Homo sapiens: one gene and its partners. The protein of the gene in region 1 purifies or fractionates together with the protein of each later gene. This does not show direct contact. Each region holds a gene or a part of one and is shown in the gene's direction. Other genes may lie near its edges.

The links. Proteins that work in one complex are often made in the same cells at the same time.
Region 2: the proteins of ZFP41 (region 1) and ARK2N purify together in Homo sapiens (affinity purification with mass spectrometry; 3 studies listed by BioGRID and IntAct, with this or other methods). This does not show direct contact.
Region 3: the proteins of ZFP41 (region 1) and LRP1 purify together in Homo sapiens (affinity purification with mass spectrometry; 3 studies listed by BioGRID and IntAct, with this or other methods). This does not show direct contact.
Region 4: the proteins of ZFP41 (region 1) and MPRIP purify together in Homo sapiens (affinity purification with mass spectrometry; 3 studies listed by BioGRID and IntAct, with this or other methods). This does not show direct contact.

What each region holds. Positions count from the first base shown.
Region 1 is NC_000008.11:143,253,439-143,257,235, forward strand, and holds part of ZFP41 (zinc finger protein 41 homolog), read left to right. Parts: exon of another isoform or gene 1-153; intron 154-3,797. UniProt on the Homo sapiens protein: A putative DNA-binding regulatory protein associated with meiosis in spermatogenesis.
Region 2 is NC_000018.10:46,215,280-46,219,076, forward strand, and holds part of ARK2N (protein ARK2N), read left to right. Parts: intron 1-531; 5' UTR 532-601; coding exon 602-1,316; intron 1,317-3,797. UniProt on the Homo sapiens protein: AMPK substrate important for exercise capacity and skeletal muscle function.
Region 3 is NC_000012.12:57,131,229-57,135,025, forward strand, and holds part of LRP1 (prolow-density lipoprotein receptor-related protein 1 preproprotein), read left to right. Parts: intron 1-3,797. UniProt on the Homo sapiens protein: Endocytic receptor involved in endocytosis and in phagocytosis of apoptotic cells. Required for early embryonic development. Involved in cellular lipid homeostasis.
Region 4 is NC_000017.11:17,164,203-17,167,999, forward strand, and holds part of MPRIP (myosin phosphatase Rho-interacting protein), read left to right. Parts: coding exon 1-3,713; intron 3,714-3,797. UniProt on the Homo sapiens protein: Targets myosin phosphatase to the actin cytoskeleton. Required for the regulation of the actin cytoskeleton by RhoA and ROCK1.

The sequences.
Region 1 (3,797 bases):
GGGGACCACAGAAGGTTGGGGACCACTGCTTTAAACAACTAGCTCTCCCGTGAAGAGCAGGTCCCCACCCTGCTGTGTAGGGCAACAGCAGATGTCAATGGCATATGAATGAACGAGCGTGGCTGTGCCAATAAAACTTTATTTACAAACGTAGGAGGTGGGCCGGATTTGCTTGCCGATCCTGTCCTAGGTGAAGGGTGCATTCGAGCTCCTGGTATAGTTTGGACGTCTGTCCCCTCCAGATCTTATGTGGAAATGTGATCCCCAGTGTGGGAAGGGGCCTGGCAGGAGGTATTCGGGTCACGGGGACAGATCCCTCGAGAATGGCTTGGTGCCCTCCTCACAGTAATGAGTGAGCTCTCACTCTTGAGGTTCACTGGAGAGCTTGTTGTTTAAAGCAGTGGTCCCCAACCTTCTTGGCACCTGGGACCAGTTTTTTCCGTGGACAGGGAGTGGTGTGGATGGTTTGAGTATGAAACTGTCCCACCTCAGATCATCAGGCATTTGATTCTCATAAGGAGCGTGCAACCTAGATCCCTCGCATGCAGTTCACGGTGGGGTTCGTGGTCCAGTGAGAATCTAATGCCACCGCTGATCTGACAGGAGGCGGAGCTTAGGCGGTAACGCTCACTCGCCTGCCACCCACCTCCTGCTGTGTGACCCACTTCTAACAGGCCATGGACCCGTCTTGAGGTCAGGGACTCCTGCATTAAAGAGCCTGGTGCCTCCTCCCGTCTCTTGCTCCCTCCCTGCAGCCTCACCAGAAGCCAAGCAGATACCTGTGCAGCCTGCAGAACCGCCAGCCACGTAAACCTCGTTACAAAAACTTACCCAGCCTCGGGTGTTCCTTTATAGTAACACACAATGAACTAACACAACTCCCAGTCCTTGCACACGCTCTCTGTGTCTTAGTGTCCTTCAGAATTAGCTGTTGGCAGGGAAGAGCCGGCGTCAGGAGTCAGGAACTCGGACACAAGAAAGAAACCAGGGGGCGGGACAGGGAGCTGCTCAGAGCAGGCATCCTCTGCTGTCTGTCGGGATGTGCCACAGAGGGTGGCAAGTGTGGACACGGCTGTCTAGGATGGCCCAGGAGACGGGCACGCATTCCCTGGTGGTGTCTGCATTTGGTTTGATTTTACTTATGATAGTATGATCGTTGCTTTTCCCCGTTACTGACAATAGGGAGCGTTACTTTTTTTTTTTTTTTTTTTTTGAGACAGAGTCTCATTCTGTTGCCAGGCTGGAGTGCAGTGGCACGATCTCAGCTCACCACAACCTCCACCTCCCGCGGTCAAGCGATTCCCCTGCTTCAGCATCCCGAGTAGCTGGGATTTCAGGCACGCACCACCACGCCCAGCTAATTTTTGTATTTTTAGTAGAGACGGGGTTTCACCATGTTGGCCAGGAAGGAAGCATTACTTTTAATGCCTGCACAATGACCAGTTGAATCGAAAAGGCACAGGTGACTTATCCACTTCCCAGCATGGGCATGTGGGCTGTTTCCAACCTAGGTTATTATAAATAATGCCACAATAAATATCTTTTCCATATTTAGGGCCAATAGGACGGATTCCCAGGTGTGGATTGACATCTCACCAAATGCCAGCCCCAGGTCATGCCCACAGAGACGCCTGCAGCAGCGCATGGCTGGCAGGACCACCTCAGCCTCTCTAGCAGCAGGCAGGTGGGTTCCTGATCCTAAACTCACACTTTAATCTGATGTCTTTGATTTCTAGGACGCACGTAGTGGGTCAAGAGCATAGCTCTCAAGTCAGGGGCTGTGGACTTGACCCTCACTCTGGAACTGTGGGGCCTTTGCCTCAGTTTTCCCAGGTGTGAAATGGCGATGCTGACAGTGCTTAACCCCACAGGGTTGCCAAGAACAAGAACCGTAATACGTGACGTCGTAAGCACACTGCTGGATCCTACGAACTGTGTGACCGTGTCAGCTCGCCCCGTGTCTGGTGTTAGTGAGATCAGAGCTCGCCCCGCGTGCTGGTGTTCTTGAGATCAGGGCTCACCCCGCGTCTAGTGTTAGTGAGATCAGAGCTCACCCCGCGTGCTGGTGTTAGTGAGATCAGGGCTCGCCCCACGTGCTGGAGTTAGTGAGATCAGGGCTCGCCCCGCGTGCTGGTGTTCTTGAGATCAGGGCTCGCCCCGCGTCTAGTGTTAGTGAGATCAGAGCTCACCCCGCGTGCTGGTGTTAGTGAGATCAGGGCTCGCCCCACGTGCTGGAGTTAGTGAGATCAGGGCTCGCCCCGCGTGCTGGTGTTAGTGAGATCACGGCTCACCCCGCGTGCTGGTGTTAGTGAGATCAGGGCTCTCCCCGCGTGCTAGAGTTAGTGAGATCAGGGCTCGCCCCGCGTGCTGGTGTTAGTGAGATCAGGGCTCGCCCCGCGTGCTGGTGTTCTTGAGATCAGGGCTCGCCCCGCGTGCTGGTGTTAGTGAGATCAGGGCTCGCCCCGCGTGCTGGTGTTAGTGAGATCACGGCTCGCCCCGCGTGCTGGTGTTAGTGAGATCAGGGCTCTCCCCGCGTGCTAGAGTTAGTGAGATCAGGGCTCGCCCCGCGTGCTGGTGTTAGTGAGATCAGGGCTCACCCCGCGTGCTGGTGTTCTTGAGATCAGGGCTCACCCCGCGTGCTGGTGTTAGTGAGATCAGGGCTCGCCCCGCGTGCTGGTGTTAGTGAGATCACGGCTCGCCCCGCGTGCTGGTGTTAGTGAGATCAGGGCTCGCCCCGCGTGCTGGTGTTAGTGAGATCAGGGCTCGCCCCGCGTGCTGGAGTTAGTGAGATCAGGGCTCGCCCCGCGTGCTGGTGTTAGTGAGATCACGGCTCGCCCCGCGTGCTGGTGTTAGTGAGATCAGGGCTCGCCCCGCGTGCTGGTGTTAGTGAGATCAGGGCTCACCCCGCGTGCTGGAGTTAGTGAGATCAGGGCTCGCCCCGCGTGCTGGAGTTAGTGAGATCAGGGCTCGCCCCGCGTGCTGGTGTTAGTGAGATCAGGGCTCGCCCCACATGCTGGTGTTAGTGAGATCAGATATTGGTTCACACACGAAATGGGGGCCATGCAAACTGACTGCCTTGGATACTTCTCCAAGGAAAAGATGAGAGAGCTGGCTTCAACAAAATCGGCATGGAAAACAACAAAAGATACATTTTTGGGGCCAGATGTGGTGACTCACATCTGTAATCCCAGTGCTTTGGAAGGCCGAGGCAGGAGGATCACTTGAGGCCAGGAGTTCAAGACCTGCTTGGATGACAGAGCAAGACCCTGTCTCAAAAATAAAAGATACATTTTTTTAAATCCACTTGGAAATTTTTTTTAACGTTTATGGTTATGAGAAAAATTGCATAACCAAAACAAAACCAGTCTGCCATCTTTTTTGTCCCTATCATTTGGCACAGACAGACGAACTCCTGACGTCACAGCAGGACCAAGAGCTGAAGCCGGAGGCACAGACAGATGAATTCCTGATGTCATAGCAAGACCAAGAGCTGAAGCCGGAGGCCGTCTAGGCTGACCTCTGCTTCGGTGTCTTGTTTAAAAGAAGCTCTTATTGCAGGAAGAGAAAACCTACATGACCCAGGTGAAAGATAAGACACTTAAAATTCAGTGATCATATGACTTAACAGAGCACCTGATGGCAGTGGGAGCCAAGGGCAGTATCCAACCCTGTGTGCTTCTGTTGCTGTTAGGAGAGGAGCTGGAAGTCAGGAGAGGAGCTGGAAGTCAGGAGGGAAGCACCCAGTGTAACAGTTAGAAGAAGAAAGGCCCAGGCCAGGCACGGTGGCTCACGCCTAT
Region 2 (3,797 bases), on another chromosome or scaffold:
TTGCACTCCAGCCTGGGTGGCAGAGTAAGACCCTGTCTCAAAAACAAACAAACAAACAAACAAAAACATTTGATGTTTCTCTATTGTAACTCCCCTCCTCCCACCTCCTTTCTTTTTGGATTTGAATGTAAAAGTAGTCATTCCAGGTAATGCATTTCTAGACTAGTTTTAAAGCATTCTTTTTCATTTATATCAAAGTCAATGAATGCATATTAATTATATCAGAGTTTTGAAGATTTCTTTGTAGAACACTTTAAATAAAATTGTAAACTTGAAAATGTTCATTACATGTTGGCCTTTCAAGTTAGAGGATTAATATTATGGCATTTTTAGTAGCTCAGTATGCTTAGATTTTGACCGTATTAAGTCCTTTGAATTTGACTGTTGATCAAACAAGCAGATAATAATATATATATATTTTAAAGGCCTGTGTAATAGTAAGTTTTGCCCCACCCACTTAGAAAGGTAGGCATGTTGTGTTGACTAAATAATCTGGCATTCTGTTTATTGACTTTGTGTGTTTTTGTACAGGTTGCTTTCCTGTTGCATCTTTGATATCATTTCCTAGACTCTACTCCATGATTTAACTTGAAATTCTGAAATGAAGATGGAGGAGGCAGTGGGAAAAGTTGAAGAACTCATTGAGTCCGAAGCCCCACCAAAAGCATCTGAACAAGAGACAGCCAAGGAGGAAGATGGATCTGTAGAACTGGAATCTCAAGTTCAGAAAGATGGTGTAGCGGATTCTACAGTTATTTCTTCAATGCCCTGCTTGTTGATGGAACTGAGAAGGGACTCTTCTGAGTCTCAGTTAGCATCCACAGAGAGTGACAAGCCTACAACTGGCCGAGTTTATGAGAGTGACTCCTCTAATCACTGCATGCTTTCCCCTTCCTCTAGTGGTCACCTGGCTGATTCAGATACGTTGTCTTCCGCAGAAGAGAATGAACCCTCTCAGGCAGAAACGGCGGTAGAAGGAGACCCTTCAGGAGTGTCTGGTGCCACAGTTGGGCGCAAGTCTAGGCGGTCCCGATCTGAAAGTGAAACTTCCACTATGGCTGCCAAGAAAAACCGGCAATCCAGTGATAAACAGAATGGCCGAGTCGCCAAGGTTAAAGGTCATCGGAGCCAAAAGCACAAGGAGAGGATCAGGCTACTGAGGCAGAAACGGGAGGCTGCTGCAAGGAAGAAATATAACCTGCTGCAGGACAGTAGTACCAGTGATAGTGACCTGACTTGTGACTCAAGCACGAGCTCATCAGATGATGATGAAGAGGTTTCAGGGAGCAGCAAGACAATCACTGCAGAGATACCAGGTAGAGGATGTTTTTTAAACTGACTGTAAAGTACCTGATGGCATTTCTCAGCTATCAGGTTCAGTTAGATGAGTGACACTTGAAAAAATCCAGGAGACCTGCAGCTCTGTGTAAATTTGAAGACTGCAGTCTATTAACAAGACATGGCCAATTTATAAAACCTGTTCTGAGGTTTCCAGTGAACTTTAGCACATCAGGAAAAACAAAATTAAAGGGTTAATGATAGGGACAAGATTATTTTTAAGTAATGGAATTTCTCATAAGTCTGTCTGTAACACATTACCTGAACTCCCAATCATTGCCTTTTTGGCACTGCTTAGATTTAATACTCACTGTTCGGCATCATTACTGAGTACATTCTCCTCAGGAATAGGCACCTTGCTTTATTATATAGCCACTGCACTTGAGCTTATAGTGTCTGAAATAACACATTCTATCTTTTGTTAAAGTTTTCTAATAATTTTTCCTCCAAAAACAGTAGTTTTATGTGTTTCCCCCATATTCAATGCATGAGAAGCTAGTTATCCTTGTTACAAATCTTTCTATCCTCACGTTGAAAAGAATGTCTTTCTGAAAAATTTCCCATTAGTTCCCCAAGTTTTAAAAAAGTTTGTTAGAAATCCGCTTGTTCTAGCTCTCATTGGTATAAGGGTCTGTAACTTATTACATATTTGGTAAATCTGCTTTCCCCATTCTTATTGCATCTGGTACTGTGTACTATAATACAAAGGCAGTCTTGAGATTTCATAGTGGAAGAAAGATGTATCTGAATGGTTCTTAAGTAGTGAATTCTTATTATCCAAGAGATCCTTACAATATGATCAGGAACATTTTGTAAACTGTATGGCATTGAATAGGTCATGGCAGTATTGTTTATTGCCACATTGAAGAGGGGCAAGTTTGGGTTTTCTAAAGTTTTATGGGTGACTATGTTTTTTCTCTCCCTGTTTTCTGAAAGCTTTCTGTTTCTACATGTGAAGACAGCATATTGCTGATATACAAAGAACATTTCAAGAGAAATCATATTGGTTAATGGAATCTATAGCTTCCCAAACTTATATAAATTCAGTAACAAGAATGATTGGTTTTAAAGCACTTTATAGGTGTTCAAGTTCTGATAATAAGTCTTGTCCATATAATATAAATATGAGTCTCAAACGATCTTTAGAAATGCTTTTTACTGTTTTAATATCTCTATTGGATTCCTTTGCTATTGTTCCTTGTAATAAAACTACCGGGAGGGGGATTTCAATGAAGCTCATCAGTTAAATGTATGAGAGAAACAGACTTTGGGGTTGTTCTAAGGCAGGTTTTAGGTATATATTTTAGTTTTACATGTATTAATATTTTTAAAAAAACCTTATTAATACCTGTAAAATTGTGCATTCCTATATCCTCTTCTAACCTCTTAATCAAGACCTTGATGGAACTCTTAATACAATACTTACTTCCACTTACTAAGCAGGATTTTATGTAACTACCCCAATACTTTGCCTTTTTGTGGAAAGGAAGAAGGTGGGTAAACAAAATTTAAAGTCAGAACCCTATTGTAAGGTGGCTTGAGAAATGTCTTCATAGGCACTTTCCCTGTTTTGCTTAAATAGGTTAGATGTGCTTTGTTCATATTTTCCTAATCTTCTTTCTAATTGAGTATCTTGACCACTGCTTAAAACTTAAAACACCAGTGTCTGTTTCTTGTCTCTTCTGAATTGTGTACTAACTGAACACCAAAGTAAATTAATTTGAATCTATAGTTTGGTTTCTATTGTTCACACCATTTAGTAACTTTGTGGCTTTTGAAAATACACATAGTTTTCTAAGGTAATCCTGGAGAATCAAATGGTAGATTGAGGTACAGGGTCACTGTATGTGACTGCCTGTGTGTGTGCTGGCAGTTTTGGGAGGTCTTATGGTATACCTGCCATTCCCATAAGACAGGTATGAATGATCTTTACTGGAATTATGCAAAGCAGCAAAAATGGAACAACTTAGAGTTCAAATATTAGGAATTTCATTTCAATTGTCCATATTGTTGTCTCTTGAAAAATTGTGACATTGTGAATTTTTAATGTAACAGTGATGTATCTTTCAGTTTACTGAGTCACCTTATGACTTTGGGGAAGAGAGGAGGCACGTTCAACCTTATAGTAAGAGCAGTTGTCGAAAAGTTGCCTAAATTGTAAAGGTAGGATAAATTATGAACTGACTTGAGTTCAACAACATGGACATTCAGGTGAACTTAAGCTGGATGGGCCTAACAGAATCTCTTGGATGTCGGAATGTTAATTCAGCTGTTTACACAGAATGGAAACCAAGTGGAAAAGTAAAAACCGATTATTGCCATACTCTTTCATTAAGGTACAACCAATTTAGTAATTCAGAAAATGCTCTTTATAAGCTTTTGTTTGGGCTCAGCTTAAAAGTTGAAGGCATTATCCTAAATAATTCCTGTTAGGATATCCTAATACCTTAATCCTAAAT
Region 3 (3,797 bases), on another chromosome or scaffold:
CCTCTTCTGCTTTCTCTTCTATGCCTGAAACTGCCTCTGGGGTCCCCTGCCCTTTGGGGAGTAACGTCACTCCCCACTAGCGACAAAATTGAGTGTACCTGCTGCTGGAGAGGTTGCAGAAAGATGGGGTGGAGAATGGGACTATTGAGGGCCCTGCTGAGATTGGGGAACATTTTCTAGTGGGGAGGGCACCCCCAGACAAATACAGCTCACAGAATAAGGCTGACTTCCTCCCTCCCTTTTTCCTGACCTTCCTCCACACACCCCCTTGAGCCGGCATATTACCAGTTACTAGAGTAGGTACAGTGGAAGTGAGTTATGAAGCTGGGGTGTTAGCTTCCTGGATCCCTGAGAGAAAGTTCTAAACTCCTTTCTCCCTGATCAGACTCACATCCTAAACGTCTCCCTTTGCCTCGTTGTCTTTTAAAGCAAGAATGTGTAAGAAATTCATTTTGGGGTTGGAGGGATATTTTGATGTTTAGGGCTGCTTCACTAGACATCTTTTTCTTCTGATCTTGTTCTCTCTCCTCTCTTCATTTTCTCAACCACCCTTCCACCACTGAGCCTCCCAAAGGATGACAGCCCAGGTCCTGGCCAGAGTCAGTTCCTGTCCAGATGCCCCCATTCTTCAAAACCCCTTCCTTACCTTTTGGGAAGCCCTTCCTTACTCAAGTCTATCTCTCTTTCCTCCTGCTGCAGTGTGAGCCCTTGCACATCAGAACCCCCAAGCCTAGGTTTATTCCCGCCCAGTACTCTCTTCTCAGGGTCCTCCTCACTCCTCAGACTCTTTACCTTTCAGGTCCTCCAGCTCTGCGTGTGGGCTCATTGCTCTTGGGGCATCTGGGTGCAGCTGAATGGTACTGCAGGAAGGCCCCTGACTTGGTAGTGCTGGGTATGAGCGATAGAGAACCTGCCTCCCTCTTCTGTCCCAGATTTCAGCCTGGTTAGCAGGATCCTGCATTGTTTGGAGAAGGAAGCAGTTGGCTTTGGAGTGTTTCCGGTGCAATGGCCTCAGGCACCAATATAAACCCTCCCTGGGAAAGAGGTGAGGGGTATATGTGGAGAGTTGTCCCTCTTGCTCCCCTAGGGGAGATGAAAGCCTCTCCCTCTCCCACCAGGCCTTAGCTTCCCTGGCTGAAGAGCTCCATTTTCCTCCCTCCTTTCTACCCTCCTGACTCCAGGGGTGGTAGTGGTCCCTATTCTGGGTCTCCCTTGAGTCAGGCACTGCCTAGGGCCGAGACTCTGTCTCTCCAAGATAGGACAGATCTTGCTCCCACCCTACTCTAGGCTCAGCGGGGTAGTCATTCTCTGGGTTCATCCCAGGACAACTGTGTCATCCCCTTGGCAATCTCTGGACTGAGCCCCCTTCCTGGCTTTTCTGGCTGTCTGTCTGTCTTTCTGTCTGTCTGTCATTAGTGTGCGCTGTCTTGGCTTTTTAGAACCTCTCTGTCTCTCACCCTCTCAGTTCATCTCTTACTGCCGAACCTTTGTGACATTCTCTGCCCTGCTTTCTGCGTCTCTGTCACTTGTCTTATTTTTCTCTGCCTGTCTCCATTTACCCCCATCCAGGCCTCTTGGTATCCCAAAAGCTTCTTGGGAGCAAGAGTCTCTCTGGGCTTTCCCACTCACCCCCTGGCTCCCTCCCCTCTGTTTTGGCTATTTTTCCCCCTTCCTGGCCAGACCCAGTGTCCAGTTCAGCACCAAAAGTTTCCTCTCCACTTTCCTCCGACTTCCTCTTTCTTCTTCCCCCTCCACTAATTTGGGGAATGGGTTTTGGAGAGAATGTTTCTGGAAGAAAGGAACTTGATACCCTTTGTGGGCTAAGAGGGAGAAAGGAGGTATTTCAGAAGGAAGGAGGGAGGTTAGACTTCTGGCAGAACTTCCTCCTGACCAGGAGCCTAAGAACTGGAGAAAGATGTAAGGAGTGAGTCAAGAACTTGGAGCTTTTACTCTGGTGAGCATAAGCTGTGTGTGTGGCTGGGGTGGGGGGAGAAGGAGAGGAGGCTTAGAAATGCCTGGTGAGTGATATGGTGACCTCTGGAGGCCTTCTGGGGGTCTGGCTTTTATTTGTGGGGAAAGGAAAAGCTGGTGGGGGAGGTCACGGGTCAGGCTAATGTCCTGCTGCATCAATATTGACTCAGAATGGAAGCGGAGACCCTTCCCCTCCCCTGGCTGTCCAAGCCACCCTGTCTGTCTGTCTGTCCAGGCCGCAAAGCAGAGGCCCAGACTCAGGAATGACAAAAATGTGTCTGAGCCTCAGGAAAGAGCCACTGGGCAACACCCAAAATACAAAAAATTCAGTGAAAACCTCTCGGTTTGGGTTTGGGAGGCCCTTGCTGCCCCACCCCCATAAGGTCGAAAATTCAGATTCCTGCAGGCTCTGTCCCCGCGCCGCCCCCCCACCCCACCCCCCGCACCTTGAGCATCCTCCTCCCACTCTGTTCCCTTAGCTATATCATGTGGTTCCCTTTAGAGAACCCCCCTCTCACCTAGCTCAGAGGGGAGCCTATCTCTCCTTCTGCTGTGTCCACTCTTAAAAAGGGCCCCAAGAGTCCCTGTCATGCTTTTGCAGTCCCTGAGTCTCCTTGTCCTTTAAGAAGCACCTCTAAGGTCTTAGCTCTCTTCCTTGCTCTCGCTCCCTCAAGGGGGTATCAAAGGATGGGTTCCCCTCCTCTGGAGAAGACTCCTTCAGGGTTGGACTTCGCTGTCACCCTCTCTGGCCAGGCATTCTCACCCCACTTCCCCACCCCCAAGGTCCCAGAATGGGACACAGAATGACAGCCAAGGGTCAAGCAGGGCAGTGGGGTCTGTGTTGTGTCTGGACGCACACCCAACTCTACACCTCCTGCCCTGGCTCCAGCTTGGTGGCCCTGGGGACCGTGGCTGGGCTGGGTGCCTGGGTTTGGGGGGGTGGGGCAGGGTGTTGGCCAAGTTAGCATGGCAGTCACATTCATCTTCAGGCAAAGCCGAGAACAGACGGCCCCTGTGTCCTGGTGTTCTTCCTCCAAACTCGCTCTCTCTCCTTCCTCTCTAGATCTCTCCTTCTTCTTCTCCTGCCTGTCTTCCCCTTCTTCTGTCCCATTCTTGCTCCTCTCTGTCTCCCCTATGCCCTTCCCTCCTCTCTGAGGAGCCCTGAAGGCCACCCCTTAAAATCCTCTCCCCACTGCCAGGGCCAGAGAACGACAGCGTTCTCCCTGCAATTTCCCTTCCTTGTTTTTTGTTTTTGTTTTGTTTTGTTTTTGAGACACAGTCTCACTCCATCACCCAGACTGAAATGCAATGGCGTGATCTCTGCTCACTGCGACCTCCGCCTCCTGCTAATTTTTGTATTTTTAGTAGAGACAGGGTTTCACCATGTTGCCCAGGCTGGTCTCAAACTCTTGACCTCAAGTGATCCGCCCATCTCCGCCTCCACCTCCCAAAGTGCTGGTACTACAGACGGGAGCCACTGCGCCCATCTGGTTTCCTTTCTTTCTTTCTTTTTTTTTTCTTTTGAGATGGAATCTCGCTCTGTTGCCCAGGCTGGAGTGCAGTGGCGCGATCTCAGTTCACTGCAAGCTCCGCCTCCCCTGGTTCACGCCATTCTCCTGCCTCAGCCTCCTGAGTAGCTGGGACTACAGGCGCCTGCCACCACGCCCAGCTAATTTTTCATATTTTTAGTAGAGACGGGGTTTCACCGCGTTAGCCAGGATGGTCTCGATCTCCTGACATCATGATCTGCCTGCTTCGGCCTCCCAAAGTACTGGGATTACAGGCATGAGCCACCATGCCCGGCCTGGTTTCCTTTCTTAACCCGG
Region 4 (3,797 bases), on another chromosome or scaffold:
AGGAGCTGATTACACACCAGATTCAGACCCTGAAGCGTAGCTATGGGGAGGCCAAGGACACGATCCGGCACCACGAGGCTGAGATCCGGAGCCTTCAGGCACGGCTCAGCAATGCGGCCGCTGAGCTAGCCATCAAGGAGCAGGCGCTGGCCAAGCTCAAGGGCGACCTGAAGCGGGAGCAGGGCCGGGTCCGCGAGCAGCTGGAGGAGCGGCAACACAGCGAGGCGGCGCTGAGCAGCCAGCTGAGGGCTAGCGAGCAGAAGCTCAAGAGTGCTGAGGCCCTGCTGCTGGAGAAGACGCAGGAGCTACGGGGCCTGGAGACACAGCAGGCGCTGCAGCGGGACCGGCAGAAGGAGGTCCAGAGGCTGCAGGAGCGCATTGCCGACCTCAGCCAGCAACTGGGCGCCAGTGAGCAGGCGCAGCGGCTGATGGAGGAGAAGCTGCAGAGAAACTATGAGCTGCTGCTGGAGAGCTGTGAGAAGGAGAAGCAGGCATTGCTGCAGAACCTAAAGGAAGTGGAAGACAAGGCCAGCGCCTATGAGGACCAGCTGCAGGGTCAGGCACAGCAGGTGGAGACCCTGCAGAAGGAGAAGCTGAGCGCCACTTTCGAGGGCAGTGAGCAGGTGCACCAGCTGGAGGAGCAGCTGGAGGCACGAGAGGCCAGCGTGCGCAGGCTCGCAGAGCACGTGCAGAGCCTCTGTGACGAGCGGGACCTCCTCAGACAGCGGTTCCAGGAGCTGACAGAGCGCGTGGCCACGTCCGACGAGGATGTGGCTGAGCTCCGGGAAAAGCTGAGGAGAAGAGAGGCTGACAACCAGAGCCTGGAGCACTCCTACCAGAGGGTCTCCAGCCAGCTGCAGAGCATGCACACTCTGCTGAGAGAGAAGGAGGAAGAGCTGGAGCGCATTAAGGAAGCACATGAGAAGGTTCTGGAGAAGAAGGAGCAGGACCTCAATGAGGCTTTGGTTAAAATGGTTGCCTTGGGGAGCAGCTTAGAGGAAACAGAAATTAAGCTCCAGGCAAAAGAAGAGATTTTAAGGAAATTTGCAAGTGAATCTCCAAAGGACATGGAAGAGCCACGGAGTACCCCTGAAGAGACAGAAAGGGATGGCACTTTGCTCCCAGGCCAACCAGTCCAAGCCACTAGGGCACCTCTAGGCCTCCCACACACAAGGCTCGAGGATGAGGACGAGGACCTGGGGGCTCCTCCGGGGGAAGAGTACGGTGATGGCAGCCCCAGTAGGGAAGACAGCATGGTGCCCCCAAAGTCAGTGGAAGTGCTTGACAGGGAGGGCCATCAGCAGGGCACAGCCAAACTCGACCAAGGGGCACCTGGTGTTAAAAGGCAAAGAATCCGGTTCTCCACAATCCAGTGCCAAAGATACATTCACCCCGAAGGGTCTGAGAAGACCTGGACCAGCAGCACATCTTCCGACACCAGCCAGGACCGGTCACCCTCGGAAGAAAGCATGTCCTCAGAGCCTGCACCCAGTGTACTGCCTGCAACTGGCGACTCTGACACGTACCTCTCCATCATCCACTCCCTGGAGACCAAGCTCTACGTCACAGAGGAAAAGCTCAAAGACGTGACCGTGAGGCTGGAGAGCCAGCAGGGTCAGAGCCGTGAGGCACTGCTCGCACTGCACCACCAGTGGGCGGGCACCGAGGCCCAGCTGCGTGAGCAGCTCCGCGCCAGCCTGCTCCAGGTTGGCGCACTGGCCTCCCAGCTGGAGCAGGAGAGGCAGGAGAGGGCCAGGAGGGTTGAAGGGCATGTTGGAGAGCTTGGGGACTTCCAGGTCAAGAATAGTCAGGCCCTGATGTGCCTGGAAAATTGCCGAGAACAACTGAGATCTCTGCCTAGGGCCAGCCAGGAGGATGAGCAGGACGCACGCGCAGCCTCCCTGGCCAGTGTGGAGAGTGCACTCGTCAGCGCCATCCAAGCCCTGCAGCACTGGCCGGCCCCAGCCCATGGCGGGGCCCGTGCACAGCTGGAGACAGGTGGCACCGAGGAGAATGGGAAGCCTGCCTCCCTGCAGCAGTGCTCCCAGTCTGAGTTGACAGAGCAGGAGCAGGTGAGGCTTCTTTCTGACCAGATTGCTCTGGAGGCCTCGCTGATCAGCCAGATAGCAGATTCCCTGAAGAACACAACATCAGATGTCTCCCGAATGCTCCATGAGATTTCTTGGTCAGGACAGCCACCGATGGAATCTGCTGGGGCCCCCGTAGACACCTGGGCCAGGAAGGTCCTAGTGGATGGTGAGTTCTGGAGCCAGGTTGAGTCTCTGAGGAAGCACTTGGGGACACTGGGAGGAGAGGCAGTCGGTGCCTCAGGAGACGGGCAGCAAAGCATCCCACAGGGCCTGGCCCCCATCCTGGCCAATGCCACATGGGTCAGGGCAGAGCTCAGCTTTGCCACACAGTCAGTGAGGGAGTCGTTCCACCGCAGGCTACAGAGCATCCAGGAGACCCTGCGGGGCACCCAGACGGCCCTGCGGCAGCACAAATGCCTGCTGAGGGAAATCCTGGGAGCCTACCAAACCCCAGACTTTGAAAGAGTGATGCAGCAGGTCTTGGAAGCCCTCAGGCTTCCAGCGGGCCATGAAGATGGTGTTCAGCTGTCCTGGGACCTGAGCCCCTTAGGAGAAGTCCTGGGCCGAGACTCAGACAGCTCTCAGGAGCCCTTCGATGTGTCTGACCAGAGCCCTGGGGCCTTTGTTGCTATTCAGGAGGAGCTTGCCCAGCAGCTGAAGGAGAAGGCCAGCCTCTTAGAGGAGATAGCGGCTGCCTTACCATCTCTGCCACCTGTGGAATCGCTGAGAGATTGCCAGAAGCTTCTCCAGGTGTCCCAGAGTCTCTCGTATAACACTTGTTTGGGAGGCCTCGGTCAGTATTCTTCATTGTTGGTTCAGGATGCCATTATTCAGGCCCAGGTTTGCTATGCGTCCTGCAGAATCCGGCTAGAATATGAGAAGGAGCTCCAGCTCTGCAAGGAGTCCTGGCAAACCCGGGAGCCCTCCTGCTCAGAGCAGGCACAGGCAGCCCGGGCCCTGAGGGAGGAGTATGAGGAGCTTCTCCGCAAGCAGAAGAGCGAGTACCTGGATGTGATCGCCATTGTTGAAAGGGAGAATGCAGAGCTCAAGGCCAAGGCCGCCCAGCTAGACCATCAGCAGCAGTGTCTGGAGGATGCAGAGAGCAAGCACAGCATGAGCATGTTCACCCTGCGGGGCAGGTATGAGGAGGAGATTCGGTGTGTGGTGGAGCAGCTGACCAGGACCGAGAGCACACTGCAGGCTGAGCGCAGCCGGGTCCTGAGCCAGCTGGATGCCTCGGTCAGAGACAGGCAGGACATGGAGAGGCATCATGGTGAGCAGATACAGACCCTGGAGGACAGGTTCCAGCTCAAGGTCCGGGAGCTGCAGACGATCCACGAGGAGGAGCTGAGGACCCTGCAGGAGCACTACTCGCAGAGCCTGAGGTGCCTTCAGGACACCCTCTGCCTCCACCAGGGGCCACACCCCAAGGCCCTGCCAGCCCCTGCCCCCAACTGGCAGGCCACCCAGGGAGAGGCTGACTCCATGACGGGGCTGAGGGAGCGCATCCAGGAGCTGGAGGCCCAGATGGATGTCATGCGGGAGGAGCTGGGACACAAGGACCTGGAGGGCGACGCGGCCACACTGCGTGAGAAGTACCAGAGGGACTTGGAGAGCCTTAAGGTCTTAACGCCCCATTCAATTTGCAGAGCAGATCTTCCTTGATAATGGGGTGGGTGTGGGGACGTCTGGCTCAGCTACCGTGCA